2 linked regions of the Homo sapiens genome follow. The protein of the gene in region 1 interacts with the protein of each later gene in a biochemical or structural test. Each region holds a gene or a part of one and is shown on either strand. Other genes may lie near its edges.

Region 1 (3,497 bases):
TGAGCAGCTCTCTAGCTACCTGGAGTCCCCAGGTTGGCAAGTGGATTAGATTGAAACTCATGTTTTCCAGCTCCCAAGTGGGGTCATCATCTACCTCCCACCACTGTATTCTAACCCATCGAGGGAGACCTGTCCCTGACCCAGAGATTAGGAATTTCAAGCTCTGTTGTCGCACAATTGGTGTTTTGCCAGAACATGCCTGAGCAAGCCCCCTGTCCCTTTGCTAGATGCCTCGGTTTCCAGGGAGGTTTGGGGGCCCTAGAGAAGTGTTTTTGGACTTAATGGCTTTTCCTCAAATCCCCAATACGTCTTTCCTGGCAGCCCCACCATGGCTGCAATCCGAAAGAAGCTGGTGATCGTTGGGGATGGTGCCTGTGGGAAGACCTGCCTCCTCATCGTCTTCAGCAAGGATCAGTTTCCGGAGGTCTACGTCCCTACTGTCTTTGAGAACTATATTGCGGACATTGAGGTGGACGGCAAGCAGGTGAAGGCAGAAATGCCCTTCCCACCCCACCCTGAGACCCCGCCCCCCAGTCACTGAATGACCTAGTATGTCCTTCCCCATTCCTACCCCTGTCTTTGCTTCATTCTCCCTGCTGGAACCAGTAAAAGTTAGGAAGTAAATCTGCAGTCTTAAAAAACCTGGATATACTTTCTGGTTCTCCCACAGACTGGCTCTGTAACCTGGGCCGAGTCCCTTTGCCTCTGGGTTTAAGCTCCCCCACCTGCAAAATGGGGATGATGGTAAGACCTCCCTCAAAGGGTTGTTGTGAGAATTAACCAAAATAATGGTGCTCACAGTGGCAACTCAAGGGTCAAACACGTCTTAGATTTCTTTAACAAACTGACCTAATTTATGTTGTGGGACAGTGATTAATATAATGCCTGGTGCATAGCAGGTGCTCAAATAAAGAAGTTCAGTGAGCCCGAAGGACAGTGGTTTCAGGGGACCTTTGGGTGGCAGGGTTGGGGCCCTCAGGCCAGCTACTCACTGGCCCTGTGTGTCAGGTGGAGCTGGCTCTGTGGGACACAGCAGGGCAGGAAGACTATGATCGACTGCGGCCTCTCTCCTACCCGGACACTGATGTCATCCTCATGTGCTTCTCCATCGACAGCCCTGACAGCCTGGGTGAGGGGATTGGAGGGAGGGGACTGAGAACCCCTTGGAATCAGCCAGAGGTCTCGTGCCTTGGCCTGTCTTCAGTCATCTTCAGAGGTGGGGGTGGGGATGCAGGGGAGCACTCAGGCCCTGTTGGTCTCCTTTACTGTGGTAACTGGCCCTCTGAGGGCATACTACTGTTGAGGTTTTGAGCTGTGAAAGGGACCATCATGCTGAATGGCTTCTAAGACTGCTCTGGGAAGATGAGGGCCCCCCCAGGGGAGCTTTCTAGCTTAAGTGGAGGCACCGACACCTGTTGGTGCATGTCTACACAGAAAACATTCCTGAGAAGTGGACCCCAGAGGTGAAGCACTTCTGCCCCAACGTGCCCATCATCCTGGTGGGGAATAAGAAGGACCTGAGGCAAGACGAGCACACCAGGAGAGAGCTGGCCAAGATGAAGCAGGTGGGTACGGCTGCCAGGCTGGAGCCCCTGGGGAAGAATGCACCCTCTGAGGGGTTGCAGACGGGCAAAGGGAACTTCTCTCCAGCTACTGCCGTGTGTTAGGGGAAACAGTAATATCTCCTGGTGAGGGAGGACCCATAGGGTTGTGTCTGATGAGGTATCAGAATGAAGTGACTTGTCCAAAGTCACTTGGCATTTTTATTTATTCCAGTTAATTGTCCATTCCGTTCAGAATTGGGACTATTAAGATGATTAAGAAAATCTGCCCTCGGGGAGACAGCTTATGTTTCACTTGGGATACCCAGGCTGTGCCATCAGAGTGCCCCTGGGGGAGGTGTAGGGATGTGGATGCGGGAATGAGGGCAGGCATTGTGTAAGTGGCTGGAAGAAGGGATGTGAGAGCTGGCTTATTCAGGGACCTGTAAGTGGCTCTCTAGCCAGAGGACTAGAGTTTATTAGAGAAAGCTGTCAGGATAAGAAATGCAAAGATAATTATGGCAAAGTTTCAAACTGGGGAGATGTTAGGTCTGTGTGTTAGAAAAATAATTCTGACTGGAAGAGAGTGAGGATGGAGGCAGAGCAGTCAGGAGGTGGGAGACGCTCATTCAGGCAAGAGAACCAGGGGCTGTGTGTGGGAGGAGGTGGGGCTGCATGGGAATGGAGGGAGTAGACTGGAGGGATTTTTGGATCCCTGGCCACGAAGCTGCCCAGGGTAGCTGGGGCCTGGGCGCTTTCTGGGTCAGGGCTGGAGAAGGAGGCATTTGTTCCAGCTGCTACACTTATGGGTGAGGCAGGAGAGGTTCATGTAGTCAACAGCTTCCTTTGACCCCTCATCTTATGTCTTCTCAGGAGCCCGTTCGGTCTGAGGAAGGCCGGGACATGGCGAACCGGATCAGTGCCTTTGGCTACCTTGAGTGCTCAGCCAAGACCAAGGAGGGAGTGCGGGAGGTGTTTGAGATGGCCACTCGGGCTGGCCTCCAGGTCCGCAAGAACAAGCGTCGGAGGGGCTGTCCCATTCTCTGAGATCCCCAAGGCCTTTCCTACATGCCCCCTCCCTTCACAGGGGTACAGAAATTATCCCCCTACAACCCCAGCCTCCTGAGGGCTCCATGCTGAAGGCTCCCATTTTCAGTTCCCTCCTGCCCAGGACTGCATTGTTTTCTAGCCCCGAGGTGGTGGCACGGGCCCTCCCTCCCAGCGCTCTGGGAGCCACGCCTATGCCCTGCCCTTCCTCAGGGCCCCTGGGGATCTTGCCCCCTTTGACCTTCCCCAAAGGATGGTCACACACCAGCACTTTATACACTTCTGGCTCACAGGAAAGTGTCTGCAGTAGGGGACCCAGAGTCCCAGGCCCCTGGAGTTGTTTTCGGCAGGGGCCTTGTCTCTCACTGCATTTGGTCAGGGGGGCATGAATAAAGGCTACAGGCTCCAACGTGTGTGGCAGCTTTCGGTCTTTCCCTCTGGGTGCTTGGTGTCCCATCTCTTTTCATGTCCAAGTTGCTTGCCAGCCTGGCCCCCTGTCTACAAAGCAGGCCAGTGGCCAGCAGGGTGGAGTCTTAGAGCAAAGGATGAGGTCATGCCTGGCTCTGGGCCAAGGAGGCGGGTGAAGGGAGTGGTCTGTAGCAGGGGGCTAAACTTAGAAACCTGTGGGTGGCTTCCCTGCCACCTCCCACTGGGTTTCCTCCCCCGAGTGTGGGGGCTGGGTTCCTCTCCAGCTGGGAGGGGATGTGACCCTCAGCAGGGCTGAAAGTCCCACCCTTCCCTACAGGGTCAGCTTAGGGGCTCAGGAAGCTGGGGCCAGGCAGAGGAGACATTATCAAGGCTTTTGCATAGAACAAGATTTTGTTTTCAGAGTTTTCTTCCTTCCCCTTCCCCCAATTGTTAGCAGCTTGATGTGTCATTCTCCCCAGCAGGGGAGGGGGTGGAATGGCT
Region 2 (3,726 bases), on another chromosome or scaffold:
GCATTTTGCCCACATCTTTCCAGAGTTCAATCCATTACCCCAGAGGGCAGGCTTATCCTAAAAAAAGAATCTCACTGCTTCAAACATGGCAAACCAAAATAGAAATGCGTGGCAATTCAGGTGAGCTTGAGCTAGCTCAGCTGAGGAAAGGTAACCACCAATAACGTTTCGCTACACTGCCTGAAATGGTACTTCTTTTGATTTGTTGGAGAAGCCCTGATCCAAAATTAGCAAATTAACTCAGCGAATGATGAAAATAATCTTTGTTGCTATTGGAAGGGGGGTAAGGCTGTGTGTGTGTGTGTGTGTGAGTGTGTGTATGTGTATGGATGGTGATGGGAGCTGGCTCTATTGAGTCTTTGACTTGAGGCTTTGGAGTTGGTTCGGTTCTGTTTGCAGCTTGAAACTGGAGTCTGTAGCCCTGAGTTGGGGGCCTTGTTTTCCAGACCTCAGCAGAACAAGGACTTTGCCTATCTCAGTATGAAATCAGAGAGTGGGGACAGATTATGTCTAGAGTCTTTTCAGCTATAATTTTCCAGTGCTCTCTGACAAGTGGCATAGTGCAGATGTTTATGGGCATGGCTAAAGATTGAAGGTGTTAACTGAATCATGTGAATTCAAAGCCATTTGGACCAAGAAGAATAGAAAAGAGGCCTTCAGGCTGGGCATGGTGGCCCATGCCTGTAATCTTAGCACTTTGGGAGGCCGAGGTGGGCAGACTGCTTTATCAGGAGTGCAAGACAGGCCTGGGCAACATAGTGAAATCCGTCCCTCAAAAAAAAAAAAAAAAAAAAAAAAACAAAAATTAGCTGGGTGTGGTGGTGCGTGCCCGTAGTCCCAGCTACTTGGGGGTTGAGGTGGGAGGATGGCTTGAGCCTGGGAGGTCGAGGTTGCAGTGAGCAGAGATCACACAACTGCACTCCAGCCTGGGTGACAGAGTGAGAACCTGTCTCAAAAAATAAATAAATAGAAAATAAAAAAGAGGCCTTTAGGAAACATTAACTGCCTCCAACGGTTTACACTTCCCAATAAACCAAAGAGGATTTTAAGATCTGGAGGTGTGGGGGAAAGACAGATGGTGGAGAAAAAAGATTTGCTTACAACCAGAAAGAGTGAGTCCTAGATCCATGACCAGTGAGATTTGCTGGTGGGCCCTGATACACTGGCAGGAGGCGCAAATAAAAGGGAATGGGCTTATATTATGGCAAAAGGAGTAGAGATTAGCATTAAGGAGAAGGCTGCCATTTTTCTTAGATAGTAGATTGTCTGCTAAGTGAAGTTATGAGATGCTATGGAAATTTATAGTCACTCTCTGGGGTTACTACCCAAGTTACTTGACTCACAGTCCATGCTTTTTCCAGTACCTTGCCATGGTGATTTTTTTTTTTTTTTTAATATGGAACACTTCACGAATTTGCATGTCATCCTTGCCCAGGGGTCATGCTAATCTTCTCTATATTGTTCCAGTTTTACTATATGTGCTGCAGAAGTGAGCACCACGGTGATTTTTAAAAAGCCTAGTTTTCAACCCAGATTATGTGGAAATTGACAAAGTAATTACTAGTACTTTCAAGTCCATAATTTTAGATAATTGTTCCCCTGTGATAAGCTGGGTTTTAGGTTGGGATTTTATCATGTGGAAAGATTTTGATTCTTCACTATGTAAGTGTTTTATCAGGACTGATGATAGATTTTTTGAGTAAAGAGACACACCTTGATTGGAGAGTACCACTTCCGGGGGGAAGAAGGCCGACGCATATTGTTGTTGAGATTTCGCGGCTCAGGGAATTCATATTCCTGCTCCGGCATCTTGACTCTTGCATTCTTTGCCTTTTCCAACTTAGCACCTTCTTCTGTGGAGCCCTTTTCTCCCCAACGAACCTAAAATAAACAAAATACAATGAAATGAAATGACAAAATATGCTGCCCCTCGAGAATGAGAATGACAAATACATGCATGAGTTGCAATGTGAATGCTACCCAACCCTGGATTCCTTTGGGTTTTGAGGGCCAGGGAAGAGGGAAACTGTGGAAAAAGAGAAAAGGGGAGGACCAAAGGAGCAGAGAGCTGAGCCACATGGGTGGATATTTAGGGAGGAATTGTCCAGGCAGCGGGGACAGCACATGCAAAGACCTTGCAGGTTCAGGTACGAACTTTGGATTTTATTCCAGTGAGAAAAGAAATCACGAGGACGTTTGAGCTGATGTGTGACCTGCTCTGACTCACGGTGGGCAAGACATGGAAACGCACAGTGAAAGGCTGTCCCTCCTATCTCTCCATCCGTCTGCCTTACAATCCATATCCCCACCAGACCTCAAGGAGGTTTTCAGCAATTTGCTTTGGGTTTCTGACATTGAGTCATCAGTGTGGTCTACGGCCATACTGCCCTGGGCATGCCTGATATCTAGAGGCTAAGCAGGGTCAGGCCCGGCTGGTACCTCGATGGGAGTAGTCAGCACATAGATAAGTGTATATGAAGCTGTCCTCTTACCTCCATTCTTTTAATGCCTCCAACGCCTCTCCCACCATAATAAGAGGCGTCTACCGTTGGCCACTTTTTCTTAGGCAGACCATCATCATCTTCTTCCTGCAGAGAAATTGTGGCACATGAAGGAAGCAAAACAGCACTGCTGTGTGGACCTGCCTACTACAGCCAAGTGATTAGGAGTAGAGCTTATAGAGTCAGACTGCCTGGGTGCAATCCCAGTGCTACTGTTTCCTAGAACCTTGGGCCAATCACTGAAACCACCTAAGCTTGTTTTCCTTATCTGTAGAGTGGGAATGTAAGCAGTGCTACCTGGTAAGTTTGTGGTACAGTCCTGTTCTCTTGTTCTCTTCTACAGCTCTACTCCTTTGTGGGAATCGCATCTAACCCCACCTACATGCTAATGACTTGTGACTTTACATCTTCAGCCCTGATGCTTCTGAACTCCAACTGCTCACTTGACATTCACATTATTTGGGGGCTAAAAAACATCTCAACAACACCACAGCAGAGATGTCCTGATTTCCCTACCCTAAACATGCTCCTCCTGTAGTCTTCCCCACTGCCTCTCTCTTCTTTACTGCCTCTCCCCAACTTGTCCCAACTTGCCAGCTAGTTCTGTTGCTACTACTTAAAGATCTAAAATCTGTTGACTTCTCCATCCCCACCACCACTATCCTGGGCCCAAGCCCCCATGCACTTGCTCATGGACACTGTGGTAGCTTCCCAACTGGCCTCCTGCTGCCCTAAGACTCACCTATGATCTGTTCTCCACAAAGCAGCAGAGTAAGTGCAAACGCCAGCTCTGCCCTGTGTGTTCTGGCCTTTGCTCACCTTTCTGGCCTTCTTCCTTATCATGTGCCCCCCTCCTCCTGAGCTCCAGCCTGCCTGCCCTCTCTCAAATACTCTGGGCAAATTCCTGTCTTGGGGCCTGTGCACAGTGTCCCCTTGTCCCCTTGTCTAGGAAAGCACTTCCCCCACCCCATCTTCTGATGGATGGATTTTCATATTACTCCTCAGAGAAACCTCCCCTGGAAATTTCTTCTAAAGTAGCCGCGGTCTCTTCATTCCATCAATCTGTTTTATTTTTAGTTAAGGATCTCATCATGGCTTGATATTTACTTAATATCTGTCTCTCCACACTAGAACGTACGTTCCACAGAGGCTTTTGTTTGTCATGCTTACAATTGTATTCCCAGTCTTTAGAATAGCACTATGTTGTATGTGGTGGGTGCCCAAG

What was found. The genes of interacting proteins can lie anywhere in the genome.
Region 2: the proteins of RHOC (region 1) and ANTXR1 form a complex in vitro, tested with the Homo sapiens proteins (one study listed by BioGRID).

The regions. Positions count from the first base shown.
Region 1 is NC_000001.11:112,700,631-112,704,127, reverse strand, and holds the end of RHOC (rho-related GTP-binding protein RhoC precursor), read left to right. Parts: intron 1-321; 5' UTR 322-328; coding exon 329-484; intron 485-1,008; coding exon 1,009-1,129; intron 1,130-1,434; coding exon 1,435-1,565; intron 1,566-2,414; coding exon 2,415-2,588; 3' UTR 2,589-2,997; downstream 2,998-3,497. UniProt on the Homo sapiens protein: Regulates a signal transduction pathway linking plasma membrane receptors to the assembly of focal adhesions and actin stress fibers.
Region 2 is NC_000002.12:69,180,648-69,184,373, reverse strand, and holds part of ANTXR1 (anthrax toxin receptor 1 isoform 1 precursor), read right to left. Parts: intron 2,589-3,726; coding exon 2,493-2,588; intron 1,882-2,492; coding exon 1,714-1,881; intron 1-1,713. UniProt on the Homo sapiens protein: Plays a role in cell attachment and migration. Interacts with extracellular matrix proteins and with the actin cytoskeleton and thereby plays an important role in normal extracellular matrix (ECM) homeostasis.